Linked DNA regions of Homo sapiens. The protein of the gene in region 1 purifies or fractionates together with the protein of each later gene. This does not show direct contact. Each region holds a gene or a part of one and is shown on either strand. Other genes may lie near its edges.

Region 1 (7,906 bases):
AGGTACTTATATAACAGTTTACAATGTAACCATTTAAAAATAAAAAAAACCATTATCAGCTTGTAGGCAGCTGGCCAGATCTGGCTTGAGTACTGAGTTTGCCGATTCCTGACCTAGAGGAACCCCATTCCCTTGCTCCCAAAACACATGGTTGAGCCCTGAGTGCTGGATATTGAAGGGTATAGTCTCGTATTTGCTGGAGGGTAAGCTGATGGGGAAAGTGGGGATACATCCCACTGCCCTGGCACAGATGTAGAAATCCAAGTATAGGTAAGGAGCAGGAGGGAAGGGGATAAAAAAAAATTCAAGTATAAAGTATGTGTTCCAGTATGCAGTGGCTCACACCTATAATCCCAACACTTTGGGAGGCCCAGGCGGAAGCATCGCTTGAGGCCGGGAGTTGGAGACAAGTCTGGTCACCACAGCAAGACCCCATCTGTAAAAAAATACTAGCCAGGCATGCTGGCACGCGCCTGTGGTCTCAGCTACTCAGGAGGCTGAGGCGGATATCGCTTGAGCTGCTTGAGCCTAGGAGTTTGAAGTTCAGTGGGCCGTGACTGCACCACTGCACTCCACCCTGGGTGAGAGCAAGGCCTTGTCTCAAAACTAAAAGTATGTGTCCCATGATGCTGCCTGAAAAATTAAGGCTGAGAGACAGGAGACATTCAGGTTATTTGCTGAGTGATGGTGACAAACGCAGGCTTCCTTAGAAGGTAGACTAAGCTTAGGCGCCTTATACTCCTGCTAAGAACTCAGGCCTTGGGCCGTGTGTGGTGGCTCATGCCTGTAATCCCAGCACTTTGGGAGGCCGGGTCGGGTGGATCACCTGAGGTCAGGAGTTCAAAACCAGCCTGGCCAACATGGTATAACTCCATCTCTACTAAAAATACAAAAAAATTAGCTGGGAGTGGTGGCACGTGCCTGTAAGCCCAGCTAATCGGGAGGCTGAGGCAGGAGAATCACATGAACCTGAGAGGCAGGGGTTGCAGTGAGCTGAGATCTCGCCATTGCACTCCAGCCTAGGCAACAAGAGCAAAACGCTTAAAAAAAAAAAAACAAAAAAAAACTCAGGCCCTACTCCCGTTGTCCTCATCATGTCTCCTTTGTGCTCCCACGGAACTTTGAACCTTATTGTTTAAAGACGAGAGGCAAGGCCGGGCGTGGTGGCTCACACCTGTAATCCCAGCACTTTGGGAGGCTGAGGTGGGCGGATCACGAGGTCAGGAGTTTGAGACCAACCTGGCCAACATAGTGAAACCCTGTCTCTACTAAAAATACAAAAATAAGCCAGGCATGGTGGCGCATGCCTGTAGTCCCAGCTACTCGGGAGGCTGAGGCAGGAGAATCGCTTGAACCCCGGGGGTGGAAATTGTGGTGAGCCAAGATCGCGCCACTGCACTCCAGCCTGGCGACAGAGCAAGACTCCATCTCAAAAAACAAAAAACAAACACGTTAAAAATGGGTAAAGAGAAGTAATCTACTTATGGTCACAAAGCTTACATAAGGGTAGACTTCATTGAACCCATGAAGTCTAGCCCTAAACTGTCTCTTCTTAACTATTCCAATGTGCTGTATCTTAACCACCTCTGCTGGCCCACGTTTGTTGAGTGGGCTGCTGTTAGTCCTGGAACCCAGAGCCCTGTACCCCTCACCTCAGGCTGTCAGAGAAGGCCTCCAGGCCAAATTTGGAGACACAGTAGCCCCCACCATTGGCTGCCAGGCGACCCAGGACGCTGGTGATGTTGATCACCCGGCCCCGGGCTTGCTGCAGCAGAGGCAGCAGGGCAAGGGTGACCCCGATGGGACCCATTGTGTTCACATTCAGCACCCGCTGGAAATCGTCCCGGGTCAGCCATGGTGTGGGTCCGATGATACCAGCCACACCAGCATTATTCACCAGACCAAAAAGCCCTGTGGGGAGATGAAAAGGATGCTGGGGGTAGGTGAGGCACTCCCACAGCTCCCTCTTCTTCCTGGGAGCATCTGAAAACTGCTTCTCCTCAAATTGTCCCTTTAGCTTACCACAGCCCTTGCAGGTGACTCCTGGGGTGACTGTGGGGATCAGGACACCCCACACCATATTCCTGGTGGTCTACCATACTTACCTGCTTCCTTAACGTGCATCTCCACCCACTTGGCTGCCTGCTGGACGCTCTGGGGATCAGTGATATCCAACAGGGTGGTGTGGAGGCGGGAGGAGGCCACCCGCTGCAGGTCCTCGGCCCCGGAGGGGGTCAGGCAGCTGGCCAGGACTCGGAAGCCTCTCTGGTCCAGCTGCAGTGCCAGAAGGCGCCCAAAGCCTGAGTCACAGCCGGTGATGAAGACAAAGGCATTGCTGGCGGGCAGGCTCTGCCGGTCCCTGAGCAACCACAGCACTGCCCAGAGTAAGGCACCCAGCAGAAGAGGCAGCCACATAGCTGGAGCCCAAGTGACCTACAGGTGGCAGCCTAGGCTGGGCAGAAAAACTTGTCCAGTTTACTGTGGCCCTCAAGCCCTTTCCCCTAATACCCTCCCTAGCTGGAAGCATCTGGTGTGAGCATATTGAGAAATTATCTGGTTGGCAGATAATTGGCCAACCATGGCTCATCTGTTCAAAGCAAAGATGTGGGCAGACCCTGTATTTGTGGCTAACTTAACTAAAACCACATGAGCCAGATCCTGTGTACAGACCTGCTGTATGGAGCAGAGGCATCTTTTTTTTTTTTTTTTTTTTTTTGAGATGGAGTCTCACTCTGTCGCCCAGGCTGGAGTGCAGCAGAGGCATCTTCTTGCTTGCCTCACACCACCTCTCCTTCTAAACCAGGGACACTGAACCTTCTATATGCAACCTGGGTCTTGTGTTTGGAATGATGTATAGGGCCAAGAGGTTTGCTGTGTGATACTGAGCATCTCACTGTCTCTCTCAACCTATTTTCTCATCTACCAAGTGGGGCTAAGACCCACCAGGTCCACCTCAGAGTTGTGGAGGATCAAAGGGGATAATGTGTGAGGAAGCATGTTAAAAGCTGAAAGTTTTGAGTTGGCAATACATGTAATATCTGGCTAGTCTTCTCAGTTCCCCCAGCTCCCAGTATCCACTTACCTCCTGTGGCGAAAGCTGGCAGGTACTACAGCGCCCGAAGCTTATTCTTTTGCTTTTGTTTAAGAGACTGCTCCCAGTCTTCCCAGCCTCCCACACTAACTACTGCTAAGGCCAAAGTCCGGAGTGGGTGGACTTGGATGCCAGGCGTATTAAGTGTATGTGTGACAGGGTGGGGATAGGACTGAGGAGGAGGAGGAGCCAGGGAGGCTGGAGCTTGCCTGGCTGAAGCCAGGACTTGGCAGAGGCCAGATTTGCCTAGGCTCCCCCCACCCCTTGGCTGTCTTTCTCAGCCTGGGTTCCTGACCATCTATGTCATGGTCTCCAAGGAGGAGGGAGCTGTCAAGGATGGCAGCTGCACTGCTCTGTTGGTAACGGTTACTGGACCTGTCATTCCTCCCCCTTCTCAGCCCTGAAGTGCCCCCAGGAATTAATCTCCCACCTGGCTCAGACTCATGACACTGCTTAGAGTTAGCCTGGGAGAGGCCATGAGCACGTGGAGAGGCAGAAAGCCAGAGCTGGGGACCAGGCCTGTACCTTGCCTTGTTTCTCTTCTGTAGGAAACAAGTCCTGAATTAGGAAGCTTGGGGCAGGGCTACTAGGACCTTCTCTCAGGAGGGATGGGAACTCCCACCCTCTGCTTGCCTAACAGACACCTGCACAAGGGCCATGGAGGAGAAGAGAGTTGGGATAGTAAGAGGAAGCTAGTTCCACCCTCTCCCCAAAAGGTACCTGTCCCTCAGGGAAACCACCTTTGAACCTTCCACTCCCACCCCCGACACTGGAGCTAGTAGCTCTCTGAAACACACCACAGAGAAACGGAGGCTTGTGTTTTATTCAAGGCTTGTCAGCCTCCCTCCTTCCCCCTGCGGGTGAGGTAGGAGGGATAGGGTTGGGGGAGGGAACAGGGGCTAGGAAGGGGCAGACTGCAGCTGCCCTTTGTAGACATATTCCAGTGCAGTGGCAATGGTGCGCATGTCCAGCTCGATGCTCCGAGCCCAGTTCTCCACATCCCCAATTTCCTGGGAAGGGGGAGAGGAGGTGGGAGCCCAGGAATCAGAATGGGTAGAGTATGGCTTCCAGTCTGGGGAATACGTTTTATTCATCTCCTGGAAAAGGCTTTACTTGGACCCACCAACTGCTTTTCTTTCTTTCTCTACCTTTTCTGACACTGGGGCTATAGATGGGGTTTCTGGGACCACCCTACTTCCTCCTTAACCTAAACCTGAGGTAACCTGACTGGAGGCAGCCAATGGGGGCCCAGGATTGGGGTGGTGAGGTAGGGAGTATGGCCCACCTTGAGTGCCTGGTTGAAGTTCTCCACCATTCCGATCCACTGGCCTGTCTGCTTGGCAAATTGGGCAGCCTGGACCTGTAGGGTCTTCACCTCATGGTCCAGCTTTCTCTGGTTCATGTAGGCCTGGGCCACACTGGGGGGTTGGAGGAGGGAGGAGATCAGCTCCAGCTAGTTGGGGGTGGTCTCCGGGACTAATATTCCATTGCAGCAGTGGGAGTTCAGCCAAGAATCAGGGCTCATAATTTTGGCCATTTTTGGATGTGATGCAAATGACTACCAGTACATGCAAATAAACCCAGCTCCTTCCTTTCACTCCCAGGATTCCCAGGAGAGCCAAGCTCGGAGCTGACTAGAAACATACCAGCTCCAAACCCCAAAAAGGAGTTCCTGCAGCTGAGTGGGGGAAGGGAGGGAAAACCTGGGGTGATATCCCTGAGGAAAAAGCTGGGAGGGAAAAAGGGGCATGGAAAAACTGGGAAAATCCAGCAGGAGGAACACATCTGGCAGTGATTGGAAGCCTAGGGATCTATGCAAGAAGTTGGAGAGGGAAATTGGGCCCCTCCCTGAAGCCGGGTTAGGATGGGAGTACAAACCCCCTCCCCAGGAACCCTGGGTCAAAAGAGGGTATCCCAGGGGTTTCTTCTCGGCTCTCAGTTGCTCTCCCAAGCCTTCGCTTTTGCCCACACAGATCAAGGAACACACACAAACACACACACACACACACACACACATGCTCTCCCTCCCTTCTGCCTTAGGCACTAGTTTTTCTTTTCAATCAAGGTATGGGCTGTGGTTACCATTACTACCATGGGGTTGGTGTCCCCAACCTTCTGCCAGTGTTTTTTGCCCTCCCCAACCCCTGCAATAATTGTTCTCCTTTATTGGCTGTTGAATTTTTCACTTCCCACCCCAGAGCTCTACTCAGCCAGGAGATTCCACATCCGGTGCCCCCACCCACTGGAATGTGTGGGGGCTGGAGCGGGGAAGGGGTTGGTGGGGGCTGAGGGAGTGGGCAGGACACCTGACAGGGGCCAAGATAGACTGAGCCTTTGTTTTCCTTTCCGGGGAATGAGAGGAGGCGTGGGCAGCAACACAAAACCCTTTCTAATCTGGCTTTGGCTTAGCTGCCCTCTAAGCTGAAAGTGGGGTGGCATCTAGCAAAGGAAAAGAAGAGGGAAAGGCCTGGGCCAATCTCACAAATGATGGGCACAGCAGAGCCCAGGAGGTGCCAATGTGGGAGGGAGGAAATGGGAGGGCAGACCCTGTTCCTTCTTTTTGGGAGACAGCTGGGTCACTGTCAAGGGTCGGGTAGGAACTGAAACAGACTCCCCTGAGAATTCCTGAACTTCTGGTTTTCCCCATTGACCACCTGCTTCTATATTCACACTGAGTAAAGAGAGCTGCCTGGAGAGAAGGGAGATCAGAGGCCCCAGCCACAACTTTCTTTCTCTCAACCTTCCCCCAAGATGAGTAACAAAGATGACCCCAGCCCCTGCATGGCTCACTTGGATGACTCAGTCTCTGGATTCACACCGAGCTGTTCTACTTGACCTGGGGTGGAAGGTACCATACTGCCTTTCTTCCAATAGGCAGACTAGCAAATCATCATCTCTGCACGCTTCTGGGTCACTTAGGGTCAAGAGACAATGTTCTTTGCTTTTTCCCAAGTCTTTGGCTGTTACTTGCATTCTCATTTAGGGCTGGGGCAGGGTGTGGTCCCTAGAGACCCAATAGGAAGGTAAGAGACAGCCTGGCTCTGCCATAGCTCCCGGAACAGGTTCTACTCTCACCACCACCAGCTCTGCCATCTCTTTCCTGCCAGCTGCTCCCCAGGCTTGCCAGAGGGTGGGAGGCAGAGGAGAGGGTGGTAAGCTGTAATGAAGGAGGGTGCTCTCCCTCCTGCTGAAGTGACAGCTGGACTTGGAAGGGTGAAGGGAGGTGGGCAGATGGCATCAAGTTGTAAATGCCAGGGAAGTTAACGTGGGGAAGGGGAAATCTGGCTGCTTCTCTAACCACGGCAGCTGTTCCTCCCTTGCCCAGTGCTAGGACTCAGAGTTGACTCAAGTTGCTCTACAAAGAGCTGGGAGGGGCGGGGTAGGATAGGGGAATTAGTGGAACATCCCACCCCTTCAACAGCTATTTGAGGGCCAGACTGGCCAGTGCCTAAACTTGGGCGGGGTGGGGAAGGAGGAAACTGATGTTGATAAGAGGTCCATACCCCACATTGAGGTGATCCACCAAAGCTTCTGTCAGGCAGGTCGCTGCAGTGATAGCCTCTCGCCTCCTCTTTTCTGGGGAGAGGGGGAAAAGGAATTGGAGGGGAGACTTGGTTTTTTGAGGGGTAGTGTTAAAGGTTCCCTACCCATCCATTACTATTCTGCTAGTTGCCGAAATTTCTTAACTAATCTCTGAATGCCGGAGCTGAAAAGGACCTTGCAAAACATAGCGCAACCTCTTTCATTTTAGAGATGAGGAAACTGGTACCCTGGGAGGGAAATGGACTCACTCAGGGACGCCAGGAAGTCAGCGGCAGCGCCCAGGACTCCTGACTCCCAGGCACTCTTTCTCCACTACTCGGCCGCAGAATCGGTAACTCCGAGATTTCCAGCCCGGACTCAGGAAACAAGTGCCCCACCTCCGTTCCGGTGGTTTCAGGCCTCCAAGAAGCCCATCTCTGGGGGGTTCCCCACACCCTCCTCCCTCCAGAGTCGCTCCTTCCCGCCGCCAGGACGAGAGGCTCCCAGGGCCAATAGGCAGGGCGCTCCGGGGCAGGGGCGGGGCTAAGGTGCGGCAGGTCGGGGATTGGGGGCGTTGCCGAGGGGACCGGAGTATTGCCCAAGGGACCGGAGCCAGTTGGCAAGGGAAAGGAGTTTCAAAAAAAGCCTCTCTGAAATTCCCTCTCCCCCATGCCCGTTGCCCGCTAGCTGGCGTCTTTCCCTGGATATGGTTAGTTACTCGAGATCCAGGCTCCGGGCTGAAGCTAGGCCGCGGCCGAAGAGAAAACGGCCGACAGGATATTTGGCTCACCCTGCAGCTCCTTGCGTTCATTCTGCTTGGCCTGGTGTTCTTTTAGGAGGCGGGACAGCATGGTCACGTCGGGCTGGGGGCTGGGTACGCCGGGCCCCCTCCGGCTCCGGAAGCTGGAACGCTCACCTCGGCTCCCCGGGGCCATGTCACGTGACCGCTGTGTCACGTGAGGTTGGGAACCGCCCTCTTGAGACCTTGGGTGAAGATCTTGGCGGGGAAGAGAGGTAGAGGGTTGCGGAGGGCAGGTGAAGTGTTCTTTATTGGGAGCTTAGTTTTTGGTGAGTGTTGGAAGAAGTATTTTCTAATACTTATATTGCCAAGCCAGTTTTTAACATTTCCTGTGGATCTCAGGCTTCGAGGGCTGGTGGTGTCAGGCCGTCTATCACCGTTTAATTGAGGGAGCAGAAGCTCCCTGGCCTCATTTAAATTATTCTCCTTCCCTCTCCTCACCTCCTGGCAGTGCTAGCTGGTTCTCAGTTGATTCCCAGTTCCTTCCCTCAAGG
Region 2 (7,268 bases), on another chromosome or scaffold:
TGAGCTGTGATTGTGCCACTGCACTCTAGCCTGGGTGACAGAGTGAGACCTTGTCTCAAAAAAAAAAAGATAAAAAGAATAAGAAGTTTAAAAAAGCATGATTTAATTTCTAAGTTGATAGATAGTGTAATACAATGACCAAGTTAGGCTTCATTTAAGTAACCGGAATGATGACACGGTCCCTAAAAGGCCAAGCAGTCTAAGTGTAGTAAGTATCGTTGCTGTTATCTTCTTCTTAGTTATACTAAGTTCTTCACAATTAGCAACAAAAACTGACTTGAGGCAGGAAAAGCAGCTGTCCTTTTTTTCAGAGAATGACTGAACAGAATCTTGCTTGTGACTATCAGTGTGACTGAGGCCGGAACAGCGTCACTGTCCTTGCTTGAGCTCCATGCCCGACAATTCTGATTCATCAGATTTGGGAGAAGAGTCCAAGCATCTGCATTTTTAAAAGTTTCTCATGTGATTTTACTATAGCCCCAGGTGAGAACCACCGCATTACAGAAACTGAGAGCTGGAAACATGTCCAGCATTCAGTTTATCCACTGAGGCCAGTACAAGAAATGCAGCAGGAAAACAGACTTAGGACTACCAACGTTCCATCGGCGCAGAGCCCTCTCTAATCCAATCATGTTTAAGCCCTGGATTTAATCAGGACTTATACAATATGTCTAAAGAAAGAGAGTCAAATCAGCCCATGTAATATGCAACCAGCCTTGTGGTCTCACCAGATGGTGGCTTCTGCTCAGTCCGGGGGTCATTTATCTAAAGCTGTGTTATGATGCTCTGTCTGCTAGTCAGGGAGTCCTCCTTAAAATTTTAGAAAGAAAGTCATTAAACTAAGCACCTATATCTTTGTCATGTCAAATCGAAATGCATAGAAAATGAAAGAGGAGAGACTAACCTAAAAGACTGAGGTTACTATCTCAACTGCAAAACAGAGAAGCTACCTCCAAGCAGATGCCCAACCAATGTCAGATAACCTGCAGTCTGGGAAATCTGGAGTCTCTAAGTTTTGTTCTTTAGATGAACAGGTCTTTACCTTATATCTTCTTCTATCTTTGCCTGAGCTTCAAGGTCAAAGGGATCAGCAGAAAACAGACGAATCCTTTCTTGCTCTCTCCGGGCTCGGTCCTGCTGCTGCTCCACCAGGACTCTAGAAAATTTCTCTACAAAAATAAGGGAGAAAAATCTTAAATATCACTATATTTTCAACGTTTATCAGTACTTTTCCACACCAAACAATTTATCAAACTACATCTGTAAGAGATGCAGAGAGGATGCCTAAAGCTTATTTAAAATGAGCAATTACATTTACTTTCTGTTCTCTGAGTCAAGGCTATTTCATCATTTAAATTCAGTGTAAAGAAAGTATTTGTGGCTGGGTGTGGTAGCTCATGCCTATAATCTCGACACTTTGGGAGGCTGAGGTGGGAGGACCGTTTGAGCCTAGGAGTTCGAGACCAGCCTGGGCAACATAGCAAGACCTTGTCTCTACAAAAAATATAAAAATTAGTTGGGCGTGGTGGTGCATGCCTGTAGTCCCAGCTACTGTTGGATGGGGGTTCAAGGGTGGGGGGATGGCCTGAGCCCAGGAGGTCGAGGATGCAGTGAGCTGTGATCGCACCACACACTCCAGCCTGGGTGACATGGTGAGACCCTGTTTTTTTTTTTTTAAAAAAAAAAAAAAAAAAAGTATTTGCAAAAATTTTTTATAAGAAGTTATCTATCATATTGTTTCTACTCAGAGGTAACAACTTTCCAATTTAAAATGGTGGGGAGTGACCATGTGGCAGATCAATGTCTCCACTCCTCCATTCCTCATTGTTCTCATTATCCTACTACCTAGAAACAAAATACAGCATTATATAATCTCCTTTTCCTCTTCTAGTTTCATTTCTTTTATAACATGCCCTGCCTTAAGCCAGATACATTAAGTATAAACTATTTTTAGTCTACCTATATTTTGTGTGTGTTCTGATGAATTAATAGGCAGGAAAATTAGTAGAGAAAACACTGCTTGCTATAAGATGTATGTTACAACAAGAACCTATTTTGCAATTTCTTTTTTTTTGAGATGGAGTTTCGCTCTTGTTGCCCAGGCTGGGGAGCAATGGCGCAATCTTGGCTCACTACAACCTCCACCTCCCAGGTTCAAGTGATTCTCCTGCCTCAGCCTCCCAAGTAGCTGGGATTACAGGTACCTGCCACCACGTCCAGCTAATTTTTGTATTATTAGTAGAGACTGGGTTTCACCATGTTGGCCAGGCTGGTCTTGAACTCCTGACCTCAGGTGATCCACCGTGCCCGGCCTATTTTGCAATTTCTTAAATGGTGGTACATTTAAGTGTGCAAACTTAAATGCCCCATCATCACCATCTTTGGTGATTAGATATGCTGATATAAGAGATTAAAAGATATTATGACAATGGTTATCTGAACTACTAATGCACACAATACAGATGGATCTAAAAAGCATTAAGTTGAGTGAAAAGCCTAACACGAGCTGGGAGTGGTGGCTCACGCCTGTAATCTCAGTACTTTGGGAAGCCGAGACGGGTGGATCACGAGGTCAGGAGTTTGAGACCAGCCTGGCCAACATGGTGAAACCCAATCTCTACTAATAATACAAAAATTAGCCGGGTGTGGTGGTGCACGCCTGTAGTCCCAGCTACTTGGGACACTGAGGCGGGAGAATCGCTTGAACCCAGGAGGCGAAGGTTGCAGTGAGCAGAGATCGCGCCACTGCACTCCAGCCTGGGAGACAGAGTGAAACTCCGTCTCAAGAAAAAAAAAAACAAAGCCTAACACGAAAGAGCAGACACTCTATTATTCCATATACATGAAGTTTAAAAATACGGGAAACTAAACCATAAGATTATCAAAACAGTAGTAACCTATAAGGAGAGGAGATTGACTAGAAAGCAACACAGTGGAACTTTCTGGAGTGAGAGAAATGTCCTGTGTCTTGATTGGGGTTACAGGAGTTTGTCAAAACTCAAGGAATTGTATATTTAAAATCTGAGTACTTCGCTTAAGGTAAAGATTGCCAATTTAAAGACAGTCAATTGAGGAATGAGTCATTAAGTGTCTGTTATGTTTTTAGACTTAACCCAATTTAACTCATAAACCCAAGAGTAAAATGAGAGTAATTTACAGAGAAAACTCGATTCATAAAGATGGCTACAAGTTAGCTGGGTGCAACTGCTCATGCCTGTAATCCCAGCACTTTGGGAGGCCAAGGCAGGCAGACTGCTTGAGCCCAAGAATTCGAAAGCAGCCTGGACAACATGGCAAAACTCCATCTCTACAAAAAATACAAAAAATAACTTGGAGTGGACTGAGGTTATGGTGATTCCATTTTGCCATACAGGGCACTGAACCTTCCTGGCATCAGCTGGCATCAGCTGGCTTGTTGATGATCTCTTTAATTGAAGATCTAACTAAGGTTAAAATATCGGTACTGGCTGGGCATGGTGGCTCACACCTGTAATCCCAGCACTTTGGGAGGCCGAGGCAGGCGGATCACGAGGTCAGGAGATCGAGACCATCCTGGCTAACACGGTGAAACCCCGTCTCTAATAAAAATACAAAAAATTAGCCAGGTGTGGCAGCATGCGCCTGTAGTCCCAGCTACTTGGGAGGCTGAGGCAGGAGAATGGCATGAACCCGGGAGGCGGAGCTGGCAGTGAGCCAAGATTGCACCACTACACTCCAGCCTGGGCGAAAGAGCAAGACTCCGTCTCAAAGAAAAAACAAAGAAACAAACAAAAATCAGTACCTAGGTTATCTGCTGCCAAAAACAATGAGGAAAACAAAAAGTAAACCAAGGGGGGTGGCCTAGATGGATTTCACTGCTAAAACTCTATTGCTGTTTCCAAGTAACTCAGCCTTTGACTTTAGCACTAATTTACCTCTCACAGAGAAAAAACTGGTATGTTCAATAAATCATGTGACACAGTGTCGCTTGAGTCTCTTCACATTTGCTATGACACAGCTTCTTCACCTCAGGCCAGCCTAATAGCCTTCCAAATTTATAAGCTTACCAAGGTCTCCACTGAGCAGAGCTTCTGCCAGGGGTGGATTGCGTTCCTTCAGCAAGGACAGCTCATGCGGGTTGGCCAGCAACATATCTCGGAGCAAGGCTGGATTGTCCAAGCCCTGAGGAGATGAAGTTATTTCTCCAGGAGATGAGTGGGACTGCTGTGTTCCTGGTGGCTGGCGCTGCCGGGGACTTGATGTGCCAGGCACAGCTATACTACTGAAATCTATTCGGGGTAAGTCTGTTGGGGAAAATCAATTCAGTTTACTCAAATTACTCTACAAAAACAAGCACTTGAAGGAAACAGCAGAACACTTGCTCATACATGGTATATGACAGCAGCAAAGGTAACTGTAGACTTTAACCTTGTTCTTTCTCATGATGACTCTGAATATAAAGACTGCCGGCTGAGAGTGAATCGATAGAAGAAGAAAAATAGGGGGAAGGTGATGGTAGTAACTCCAAATTTTTAGCTTATAAAATATCTCACAATAGACATCAGGTTTTTAATTTATGTTTTTAAATCATTAAAGTGGCCAGGCGTGGTGGCTCACACCTGTAATCCCAGCACTTTGGGAGGTCAAGGTGGCTGGATCACCTGAGGTCAGAAGTTCAAGACCAGCCTGGTCAACATAGTGAAACTCTGTCTCTACTAAATATACAAAAATTAGCTGGGCGTGGTCGCAGTCACCTGTAATCCCAGCTACGCAGGAGGCTGAGGCAGAAGAATCACCTGAACCCGGGAGGTGGAGGTTGCAGTGAGCCGAGATGGCGCCATTGCACTCCAGCCCAGGCAACAAGAGCGAAACTTCATCTCAAAAGAAAAAAAAAAAAAAAAATTAAAGCTAGTTTCAATAAATATAATTGCATAAGTCTGGATGTTGTTCTTGAGAAAAATCCTACTCTGGTCTGACATATGGTTCAAACAGCCTTGACGCTTGGATTAAAGAATTTTTTTTTTTTTTTTTTGACACGGAGTCTTGCCTTGTTGCCCAGATTGGAGTGCAATGGCACGATCTTGCCTCACTGCAACCTCTGCCTCCTGGGTTCAAGTGATTCTCCTGCCTCAGCCTCCCGAGTAGCTGGGATTACAGGCGTGTGCCACTACGCCCAGCTAATTTTTTGTATTTTTAGTAGAGATGGGATTTCACCATGTTGGCCAGGCTGGTCTCGAAATCCTGACCTCAGGTGATCCACCCACCTCAGCCTCCCAAAGTGCTGGGATTATAAGTGTGAGCCACTGTGCCCGGCCGGATCAAAGGATATTATATATGTCAAGTGAGCAGCATAAATATTAGATGCTAAATTCTGCAAGTCAGTGCTAAACGTATTGGCTCAGGGAAGTTCTTAATAGTTCTCTGAATTTATACTTTAATCTGTGCATCTCTGCTAACTCTTCTCATGCCCTTGGGGAGCTAAACAGTGTCATCATTTTATAGAAAAGAAAGAAGAAAAGGGACTTGCATAGGTTCTCAGTGCTGAATACACCAAAAGCTACCACAGTTTAGAAGCTACAACTCCCAGGTTCTATATGCCAGGTGGAACTGACCTTACTAAAATGAAAGGAAGATAAAAGGGAATTTTAATCCTTACACAACGGACTCACATATTGTATGACCCCATTTATATGAAATGTTCCAAATAGGTAAATACATAGAGACAGAAAGTAGACTTGTAGTTGTCTAGGCTGCGGAGACTAGGGGGAAATGGGAAATGACTATAAATGGGTATAGGATTTCTTTTTAAGGTAATGAAAATACGCTAAAATGGATTGTGGTGATGGTTACACAACTCATGAATATAGTAAAAAAAAATCATTTAAATGCATGAATTCTATCTCAATAAAACTGTTATTTAAAAAAGAAAAATGAAAAAGAGAAAAGTAAACAAGGAGAGCCAGAATGAGGGGCTAGGCCTGAGTCAATCGACATTCCTTCAACTCCAAAAAATATAGTTGATGGTCAAACTTGTCTGAACAACTGAATACTTTTCTTAAGGATAACTGTGCTTAATGTTATAAATGACAGTACACTAAGCAATTCCACAGTGATCAGAATTATAGCACAATCCTTGCACTATTAAGGATTTTAAATAAACTAAAAAATCAAAAAACAAACAAACTTGTCTCAAGTCTGGGACTATCCTGAAGCCTTTTTGGACCTCAGATAGAAAAAGAGAATGCTTAAACTCATGATGTAACATTTCTACCCTTTAGCAGGGGTTCAACTAGCCACTTTCTTCAACTCCCAACCAAGGAAATGGTGAAGTGAAGAGGATGATCTCTGTGAGGTAGTTAATCTATACCAGCCAGAAAAACATATATGGGTGGGCCCTCTTTGCAGGTCAAGAAATTTTATCTCCACTCCTGTTATACATTATCTTGAGAGTCCATTCACTTCAGAATAATTCTCAAAAACATGTTTACTTAATAGACCAGATCACTCCTGCCCCAACCTGTTACAGGCTCTCTTGTCCATAAACAACAATGCAGAGGAAAAAAAAAAAGAAGTAAATTCCGGAATTAATAATCTCATCAAATTAACCAAAGGAAGATGTGGTTTTTACTGATTGTCATAGTTGTTTAAATACGTTTAACTTCTTCAGAAAGAAGTTTTAACTTCTTTCTAAAGTTTAACTGTGGCCCCAAGGGACTAATGTCTTCCAGATCTGGTGGAGCCGGTCCTTGATGGTCTCAGTAAGTTCCAGTTTCAGGCTGAATGGAAACACTGTGGTTAAAACTGCAGTCAGTCTGTCATCACCCAGACTCTGCCAGCATCTGTCACCATAAACTTTAAAACTGGTGACCTACAGGCTAAACACTATTTAAGAAAATCTATCTGAATATGGCAGCGAATGGAAAAAAACCACACATTTCACCAAGCTGTTTCACATTAAGACCTTATAATCATTTTGTGGATCATGAGCCACTTCAAGTATCTGAACAAAGCTATGACCCTCTCTCTATCCAGTGCACACACACATTCACATCCACACAATTCTGCATATTATTTCAGTGACATAGAACCTACTAAATCCCAATGCACAGAGTTCAGACTATAAACATCTATTATAAAAGCAGCATCAAAGATAGATAAACGTTTCTTTGTATGTGATTAACACAGCTGGTAGGAAAGAACCACAACTTGGTGGTCAAGCTGCTTAATGTTTATCAAGTTCAGCATAATGGAAAAAGCATCAAATTTTAATTCCTGTGCCCTCACTTAAT

The links.
Region 2: the proteins of RDH5 (region 1) and DDI2 purify together in Homo sapiens (affinity purification with mass spectrometry; 3 studies listed by BioGRID and IntAct, with this or other methods). This does not show direct contact.

What each region holds. Positions count from the first base shown.
Region 1 is NC_000012.12:55,715,694-55,723,599, reverse strand, and holds the start of RDH5 (retinol dehydrogenase 5), read right to left. Parts: upstream 3,208-7,906; 5' UTR 3,083-3,207; intron 2,453-3,082; exon of another isoform or gene 2,448-2,452; 5' UTR 2,416-2,447; coding exon 2,106-2,415; intron 1,912-2,105; coding exon 1,653-1,911; intron 66-1,652; exon of another isoform or gene 1-65. Other genes in the region: BLOC1S1 (biogenesis of lysosome-related organelles complex 1 subunit 1), read right to left, coding at 3,991-4,101, 4,377-4,509, 6,595-6,667, 7,404-7,548. UniProt on the Homo sapiens protein: Catalyzes the oxidation of cis-isomers of retinol, including 11-cis-, 9-cis-, and 13-cis-retinol in an NAD-dependent manner. Has no activity towards all-trans retinal.
Region 2 is NC_000001.11:15,627,340-15,634,607, reverse strand, and holds part of DDI2 (protein DDI1 homolog 2), read right to left. Parts: intron 4,284-7,268; coding exon 4,047-4,283; intron 1,170-4,046; coding exon 1,043-1,169; intron 1-1,042. UniProt on the Homo sapiens protein: Aspartic protease that mediates the cleavage of NFE2L1/NRF1 at 'Leu-104', thereby promoting release of NFE2L1/NRF1 from the endoplasmic reticulum membrane.